2 separate regions of the Homo sapiens genome follow, and region 2 is linked to region 1. The links come from fine-mapping of genetic effects on gene expression. Tissue or cell type: whole blood. Region 1 holds a variant in brackets; the other region holds the start of a gene. All regions are shown on one strand. Distances are between the middles of the regions. Region 1 has its middle 2.8 kb from the start of ARAP3. Region 2 holds the start of FCHSD1 (FCH and double SH3 domains 1).

Region 1 (4,295 bases):
GGAAGGGGCTCCCTGGAGGGTAGCTCTGGAGTCTAGGGGGAAATGGCACAGCCCTCAGGCCAGAGGAATTAGGGGTAGGGAGGGCTGTGCTGACCCTAACCAGTCTCCATGCAGCCATCTTCCTAAAATTCAAACCTAAATTCATGAGTCTATTGCCCCATGCTTAAACTCTTCCCTGGCTCCCCATGGCTCCTGGCATGGAGACCAAATCTCATACAAGCCCTCCAAGGGCCTGCATGGCCTGGCCCCTGAGATCCTTTCAGTCTCAGCTGGTCCCAAACTCCCTGTCTCTTTGATCTGTCTCCCTTCCTCACCAGGCTGACTCCTACCTCAGGGCCTTTGCACTCGTGGTTCTTCTGCCTAGAACACTCCCTCCCATCCCGCTTAACTCCTACCCATCTTTCTGAGATCTCAACTTAAGCAGAGCTCCCTGCAGAAGCCTCCCAGACCCCCAGGCCAGGTCAGCTGCCTCTGTTATATGCTCTTACAGTGCTTCCCTTCAGAAAATTCATCTTGGTTTGTAATTACACATTTATTTGGGGGTTGTTTGATAAATGTCTCACTTCTTGAGCAGGTCATGTTCCCTAAAGTCTGCTGAGCACGTCATTGCATCTCTAAACCCTTGAGCAGTGGTTGGTCCAGAAAAGATGATTAATAAAAACATGAGAAATAAATGAAAGGATTGAATGGGAGTCTTCCTTCCTGTAAGAAACATGCTCGGCCGGGCGCAGTGGCTCACGCCTGTAATCCCAGCACTTTGGGAGGCCAAGGCAGGCGGATCACCTGAGGTCAGGAGTTCAAGACCAGCCCCGCCAACATGGTGAAACTGCGTCTCTACTAAAAAAAACCACAAAAATTAGCCGGATGTGGTGGTGGGCGCCTGTAATCCCAGCTACTAGGGAGGCTGAGGCAGGAGAATCGCTTGAATCTGGGAGGCGGAGTCTACAGTCATACGAGATCGCACCACTCCACTCCAACCTGGGCGACAGAGGGAGACTCTGTCTCAAAAAAATAAATAAATAAAAAGAAACTTGCACCTTGGCATCCCCCTAGGCCCTGTCCCATCTCATCAGGACCAAATGTGGGTGATGGCTGTGCCTTTTACCATCCAGAGGGTAAGGGCAGGAAAGGAGTGTGACCTGGAGGCCACTGGAGACCATGGAGGCGATCAGGAGTTGCAGGGGTGACAGGAAATTGAGTTACAAAAGTGATGGAACAGACAAGATGACAACTGGGGACCCTGGGGAAAATACAAGGGGTACAATGTGGTCTAATTTGGCAATAGGATGCCACAGGCTGATTGATTAAAATAGGTAACGGGATATGCCAGAGTGATGAAGAAACAGGCAAGCTGGGTGCATACCAGAGTTATCATGGAAGTAACTGGCAAAAATAGGAACAAGGAACAGGAAACACTTTGAGCACTCATTGAATGTCAGGTCCTTTCCACATATTACCCATATATTTCCATAGATTAATCTTTACAACCCTGTCAGGCACTATTCTCTCTCCTTTTTTCAGAAAAGGAAACTGAGGCACACAGGGCAAAATAGAGATGAATAATCTGCTCAGGTCACAGCTGGTAGAGGTGGCATCAGGGCTTTATTTTAGAGACTGTTTTTTTGTTGACCTTTTGTTTTAGTTTTTGTTGTTGTTGGTGGTGGTGTTTTGTTTTGTTTTTAGAGACAGGCCTCACTGTCACCCAAGCTGGAGTGCAGTGGTACGATCTCGGCTCACTGCAATCTCCACCTCCTGGCTCAAGCAATCCTCCCACCTCCACCTCCTGAGTAGCTGGGACTACAGGTGCACACTACCACACTTGGCTAATTTTAAAATTTTTAGTAGAGACGAGGTCTTGCTATGTTGCCCAGGCTGGCCTCAAACTCCTGCTCTCAAACAATCCTCCTGCCTTGGCCTCCCAAAATGCTGGGATTACAGGTGTGAGCCACAGTGCCTAGCCGAGAGACCTTGTTCTTAATTACTGCATACCATCCACTTTTGGTGAACAAAGTGGCCTCCAAAGTGATTGTGGCTTAATAGTCTATCATTTGAGTGGGGAACAAATCGAGACATGGAAGGGGCTATTGAAGAATTCCCTTCCACATCTCCTCATTGCTTC[A/G]TTCTTCCTCTTCCTCTGCTCACTAGTGTCCCTTTTGTCCTATGTGTTAAGATTAAGATTTAAGATTTACTAATTTCGGCCGGGCATGGTGGCTCACGCCTGTAATCCCAGCACTTTGGGAGGCTGAGGTGGATGGATCACCTGACAGGAGTTTGAGACCAGCCTGGCCAACATGGTGAAACCCTGTCTCTACTAAAATACAAAAATTAGCTGGGTGTAGTGGCAGGCACCTGTAATCCCAGCTACTCGGGAGGCTGAGGCACAAGGCTGAGGCACGAGAATTGCTTGAACTCAGGAAGACACAAGCCAGGGGCCAGAAGCCTCCACCTGCCCCATATCATTGAGCCAAAGAAGGGAAGTGGGGTCTGAGGGAGGAAGCCAGGTCTCCCTCTCTGTGGCTCTGCCCCATCATCTGGCATTGGTGTCCTTAACTTGGAGTCAGTGGACTTGGATGGGAAAAGAATATTACTTTCACTAATCTCTAGCTGAAATTTAACATTTCCTCCAATTATGACAATAGCAACAAACCAGTCATTTTAGCCATAACTATGGCTTTGTCACCAGTAGAAATCACATATATTTTTATATCATATTACAATATTGCAGATCTTTTGAAATACCATTTATGCTCATCACTGCATCAAAGTTATGTGAGGTATCAACCTACCACTAGATCTTATTTAAAGCATTAATAAAGAAGCACATATATTACTATATCACATCGGTTTTATATGTGTATTACAACATAATTGGTTTCCTTTGCAATCCTATATATTTTATTTTATGCATTTTAAAATATTATTCTGAGATGAGACCACATACTTTACCGTATTGCCAAAGGAGAACATGGCACAAAAAGGTTCAGAACTCTTGCATCTAGCCCCTGACCCAAACTCCCCGGCATCCATTCCTCAAAACTCCCTGTGCCCTTTACTGTCTTTTCCTGCTCCCTTATTTTGCTGGGTTAGTCTGAGTCCTTAAAGAAGAAGCTGCCAAGGCAGAATGCAAGGATTTGACTAGGGGAGATGCCTGTGAGAGAGGAAGGGAGCCTGGAGCTAGGAGAGCTGTGAAGGAGAGAGGGAAGGAATAAAGGTTGAGAGGAGCATCCTAAAACACCAGTCAAAGGAAAGTTCAGCAAAGCCATTGGGAAATCTTGATCCAAAGTCAGCTGTCAAAGGAGTCCCCTATCTCCCAGGAATGGGTCTGCCTTAGATCTCTGCTGAGCTCTGTCACTGGCTGGGAGCAGCCCAGTGGGAAGCTGGCCTTAGATTTCAGAGAGAAGCAGCTGGGGCCATTGGTTAATTTCACTCCTCACAGTGTAAGATCTGTGAGGAGCATTCTCACTGCCACCACAGTTGCCCATCTGAAAAAAAGGACATGGTGCAGGGGTCCTGTCCAGGGTGGTAGGTGAGCATGGTAGTTATAGATATAGACTTGGAGGGTTGGCTATTTTCTAGCTGCAGAGTCTTGAGCAAGTTATTTAATGCTCCCTGTCTCCTTATATGTAAAATAGAGGTGATAAAATTTCCTATTTGTAGGGATATTTGTGAGGATTAAAGTTTGCAAAGCAATGTTTACATAGATCCTGGAGCACGGTCAGCTCTCAATAATTGGTAGCCCTTATTATGGCTATTGCAATTATTATTTTATTACTATAATTCTCTTTCTCAAAGGGAAGGCCGGGAAAGTGGGGCTCCAGTAGGTTGAAGATGACAGTCCCTCCCCTAGCTGAGGCAGCTGGAAGAGGTGGGAACCACTTCCTCCCACTCCCCTCTTCTTCCCCTGAGGCAGGGGTCTTCCCCTAGCTACTGACAGTTCCTGTGTCTGCTGACTCACAGCCAACTTCCTCTCATACAAACAGGAAAACACAGCCGGCCAGCGCCCCCGCCACCCCCAACACATACACACACACACACACACACACACACACACACACACACACACACACACACACAAACACCCCCCCCCCACACCCAAACACTGGTCCTGCTCAGAGAGGGAAGTGCCTCCGCCCCTGGGAGACAGGCTCCAGGACCGGGGTTCCGGCAAGATTAGCGAAGGAGAGAAGGGCCATTCCTCTTCAGGCCTCCCCGGCATCCCCCCTGAAATTTTAGGGTGGGAGTTGGGGAGAAGGGGCGGCTTCTCCCATGAATGAAACAGCTGCTTGCTTGGTCAC
Region 2 (4,484 bases), 33 kb after region 1:
GGAAGGAGCACTGGACTAAAGGCTTCAGTGGCTGCGTGTCCCAGGACAGGTCATGGCCCCTCTCTGGGCCCAGCCCATTTATCTATACCATGAGGTAACTGAAGTAAGGAGAGCAGTGAATGTCAAACTGTGTTTCTTAGAGCCATAAGCCCCACATATTATCCCTGAACAAGGGCAGCTCCTGCTTTATATATTTGATACGTAGGGGTTCCATGAGAGATTTTGGGTTTTAAAGGAATGGTTTTACTGCATTAAAGAAAAAAAATGCTTTGGAAACCAGAGGCCTGGGTGATGTTAAAGTCTATCCTGTCCCACTTCCTACATTCTGGGACTACCGTGAAGCCTGGAGTAGGGAGAGCGAGTTTGGGAGCTGGGACTCGGGGAGTCAAAAATAGATGAGTAATTGTCAATAAACCTGGGAACCAAAAGACTACCATTCTCATTCATTCATTCAACAAATATGTATTGTGCACCTAATTGGTGCCAGGTCTGGGGATATAGCATGAACAAAACAAACAGGGCCCCTGCTCTTATGAATCCTCCGTTGTGGAGGGGAACAGAAAATAGCAAATAAACACATAAACCAGTACTTGAACAAGTGAGTTTAGTGCTGTGAAGAAACTGAACCAAAGTGATGAGCTTGAAGAGTGATTGTGGAGGCCAGGCGCAGTGGCTCACACCTGTAATCCCAGCACTTTGGGAGGCTGAGGGGGATGGATTACCTGAGGTCAGGAGTTTGAGACCATCCTGGCAAAGATGGTGAAACCCTGTCTCTACTAAAAATACAAAATTAGCTGGTTGTGGTGGCACGTGCTTGTAATCCCAGCTACTCGGGAGGCTGAAGCAGAAGAATCACTTGAACCTGGTAGGTGGAGGTTGCAGTGAGCCGAGATTGCACCATTGCACTCCAGCCTGGCAACAGAGCAAGACTCCATCTCAAAAAAAAAAGAGTGATTGTGGAGATGGTCTTTGGATGGGTGGATGGGGAAGGCATCTGTGAAGAGTTGCAAAGTAAGGGAAAGAAGCTGTTGGAGGCGACAGATGGAACGCTGGAAGGAGGAGATTCTGGAGAAAGAAAGCAGGCATGAAGAACTCTGCATTGGAAGGGACTTGGTCTACTGAGGGAACAGCAAAGAGGCTGGAGCACAGTGAGCAGACAGTGGGAGGAGAGTACAGGCTGAAGTAAGAAAGACCAGCAGGGTCTTCCATGCGTAGCCTTGAAGGCCATGGATTCTATTTGGATTTTATTCTGAAGCAAGTGCATTTTAAGCAAGTAAATTATGAGATCTTATTTCCCTTTAAAAAAGAAAAAAAAGGTTGATCACTCTGAGTGCTGTGTGAACAGTGGGTTGGGGTGAGGGCAGTGTGGAAGCAAGGAGATCAGATATTAGACCAGAAGTCTAATAATGGGGGCTTGGACTAGGATGGTGGTCTTGGAAATTGAGGGAAGTGGATCAAGAGGTTTTTGTTTGTTTATTGTTGTTTGAAATAGAACCTGTAGGACTTACTGATGGATAGAATGTAGGGGTAGGAGAAGGCACATTGACTCTGGGTTTCTGACTTAACTGACTGGAGGAAATGCGGTGCCATTTAAAACGTTACGGGGGGAGGATCAGGTTGAAGGAGGTTTAAAAGCTTTAAAAGTTGAGGTTCCTATTAGATATACTAGCAGAGGTGTCAGTGGGGAGTTGGAATGTGAATCTGGAGTTTTGAGACATGTCAGGGGTACTGGGACAGGTGCCTGAGCCAAAGAAGCTTAGGTGAGGAGGATGAGGAATTGGGGAGAGGCTCCTCAGGAAGCAGTGCTAGGGCTGGAAGATCCTAAAGGTGGCAGGGGCTTCCTGCGCATCTCCCAGCTCTCGCCGACTCACTGGTATCGTTTAGTTTTCAGTGGGGCCAAGTCTTTTTCCCTTTGGGCCTGGTTCCTTCCTGGATCCAGGCATCTTTCTCACCCCGCTCACGCTGGCTTTTCCAGTTAAGCGGGAATTAGGAAAAGGTCTGGGACCAGCCCTCTCTTCGTCAGATGCATCTTTGCTCAGGTGCCCAGTGACTCAGTTTCCCTGGTCACACACTGAATTCCTCTCCATTCCTCATCATTAGCTCGGGGACTGGGGATCTACATATGCAAATGAATAATTATCAATAATTACAGGCTGAATCAGTGGTTACACTACAAATAGAACTTAGGCGTCTTGACTCAGATGCCTGGGGTTCTTCCCACCGCCCAGCGGACGCTGCGTCCGCCCCGCCCGCCCCGCCACCCGGACCCTGCCGGCGTATTCGCAGCAGTAACAGGTTTAGTTTCTCGGTGGCCCCCTCTCGCTTCCGCGCCCTGCGACGTCGCCGGACAAGTCGTGGGCGGGCAGAGGGCGGGGCCTGACCTGGCCTGGGGCGGGGCTCCATAGTGGGCGGGGCTTCCTCCAGTTCCGGAGTCCAGTGGCTGACCGCCTTGCTGGAGCGGAGATGCAGCCGCCGCCCCGAAAAGTGAGCTTGGCCCTGAATGGGGACTCCTGGCGGGCTGGGGGAACGGAGGGAGCTAAGGGGGCATCCGACTTGTGGTAGGAGACGGGAAGTCGGAAGGGGTCAGACCCCAAACCAGAAGTAACAGAGGAAAGAGCTCAGCACCCCCCCGGCCCCGCCCCCTCACCGCTCCCTGCGCGGAGTGTTTTTTAGGTCCTTGCGCTGGGGTCTTCATCCTCTCTTTGCCCCCACAGGTGAAGCCGGCCCAGGAGGTGAAGCTTCGCTTCCTGGAACAGCTGAGCATCCTTCAGACCTGGCAGCAGAGGGAGGCGGATCTGCTGGAGGACATCAGGTAGCTCCCCCAACCCCCTTCATTTACACTCACCTTCGTCGTTGTGCGCCACTTCTCCCCAATATACATGTGCTGGGGTGGAGGAACAGGGGCCAAGAGCTCCCCAGCCGACCCATCCACAGCCCTCACCCTAGGCCTGGCCTCTCCAGATACTGGATAGGAATGCTCCCCCACCTAACCCCTCCCAACCCCCTCCCACCCACATAAACACACAGGAACCCTCCCTCAAAGCCCTTGACTCCACACCACTGCCCCCAACCCCACAATCAACCTTAGGGCAGAATCCCTCTCCCTCTTCCAGACCTGTTGGAAGGCTGGCAGACATCGTACCCAGGCCCCCATCAGTCTTCACCTCTAAGCCTACAGATGAACCTCTGGGGTGGGGAGGATCCTGCTGGGGCCCGGGGCAGTAAGGTGAGGGTTTCCTGTGTTGCAGCTGCCCGAGGTGATCTCAAGGACTCCCATCAGTCCCATTCCCTCTGGGTGTAGTTACACTCTAGGAACCTGGCTCCCCCCAACCGCTCCCTCCTGCCCAGAGTAGAGGACTGAGGATGGGAGAACAGGACCAAACATAACCTTATCCCCCACCTCACCCCCGACCTGCAATCTCCGCAGATCCTACAGCAAGCAGAGGGCAGCCATTGAACGGGAGTATGGGCAGGTATGGGACTTTTCTCTGGACCTTACCTCTTGTTCCAGCCTCTCTTATATCACCAGTAATGTCTGTCCATACCTATCCCTATTGTGGTCAAGAGCAGATGCCTAGAGTCAAGCAGACTGGTGTCAGATCCCTGCTGTGTAATTATAGCCATGTGACCTTGGACAAGTTACTTAACCTTTCTTGACCTCAGTTTCTTTCTCTGTGAAATGGGAATAATAATAATACCTTACCTTCATGTAGGGTTGTTGTAAGGATTAAACAAATTAATGACTATAAGGCATTTAGCAAAGCAAGTGGCACATAATGTACCCAAAGAATGGTATGATTATACTCTGATGTCATATTCTGCCAGTTGGGGTGGGTCTTTGAAAGGGAACTTGGTTCTGTGATGGCTTTTTCACCAGGCACTCCAGAAACTGGCTGGCCCATTCCTGAAGAGGGAAGGGCACCGGAGCGGTGAGATGGACAGCAGGTGGGCCCTATGGAGGGGGAGGGCCACAGAGGCCAAAAAGTGATGGGGAGCTCAGCCCCAGGAACCTGTGGGGATGAAGGCCTAGCAAGTGGGGAAGGCACGTGAGCTGTAGGTAGAGCTGACACAGCAGCAGCAGAGGAGCTGACCCAGCAAGGACACTGTGGGTGGGGTGGAGGGCAGGAGTGAGGCTTGTGGCTGAGCTAATGGGCTGATCGATTGATGGGCTCCCAGACAAGGGAGGATGGGAAAGCACTCTGTCTCCCATGGTGTTGGTCAGGGGGCAGGGGGTGGGGGTGGTCTCATGAAGCTGTGGAGTGCTCTCCTCCTCAACACAGACCTTCTCTGGGGAGGGGCAGGACAGTGTTCGGTGCCTGGCGCTGCCTGCTGGATGCCACCGTGGCTGGGGGCCAAACCCGACTCCAGGCGTCTGACCGATACCGTGACCTAGCAGGGGGTACAGGGCGGAGCGCCAAGGAGCAGGTGCTTAGGAAGGTATGGCTCAGAGGTTGGGGTGAAGGAAGAGCTGGCTTGGGACCAAA

The links.
Region 2: FCHSD1 starts here. The variant in region 1 is fine-mapped to the expression of FCHSD1 in whole blood (TOPMed, PIP 0.91).

The regions. Positions count from the first base shown.
Region 1 is chr5:141,682,885-141,687,179 of GRCh38, reverse strand. No RefSeq gene overlaps it. Among named protein-coding and RNA genes, the nearest start is that of ARAP3, 2.8 kb to the right of the region's middle. The variant A/G (reference allele first, on the strand shown) is at 2,120.
Region 2 is chr5:141,649,348-141,653,831 of GRCh38, reverse strand. FCHSD1 (FCH and double SH3 domains 1) reads left to right here and starts at 2,414. Exons shown (of 20, transcript NM_033449.3): 1 at 2,414-2,484; 2 at 2,715-2,812; 3 at 3,428-3,473; 4 at 3,878-3,945; 5 at 4,296-4,437. The coding sequence starts at 2,464. ARAP3 (ArfGAP with RhoGAP domain, ankyrin repeat and PH domain 3) reads left to right here. Exons shown (of 33, transcript NM_022481.6): 33 at 1-430. RefSeq lists an enhancer at 3,814-4,392.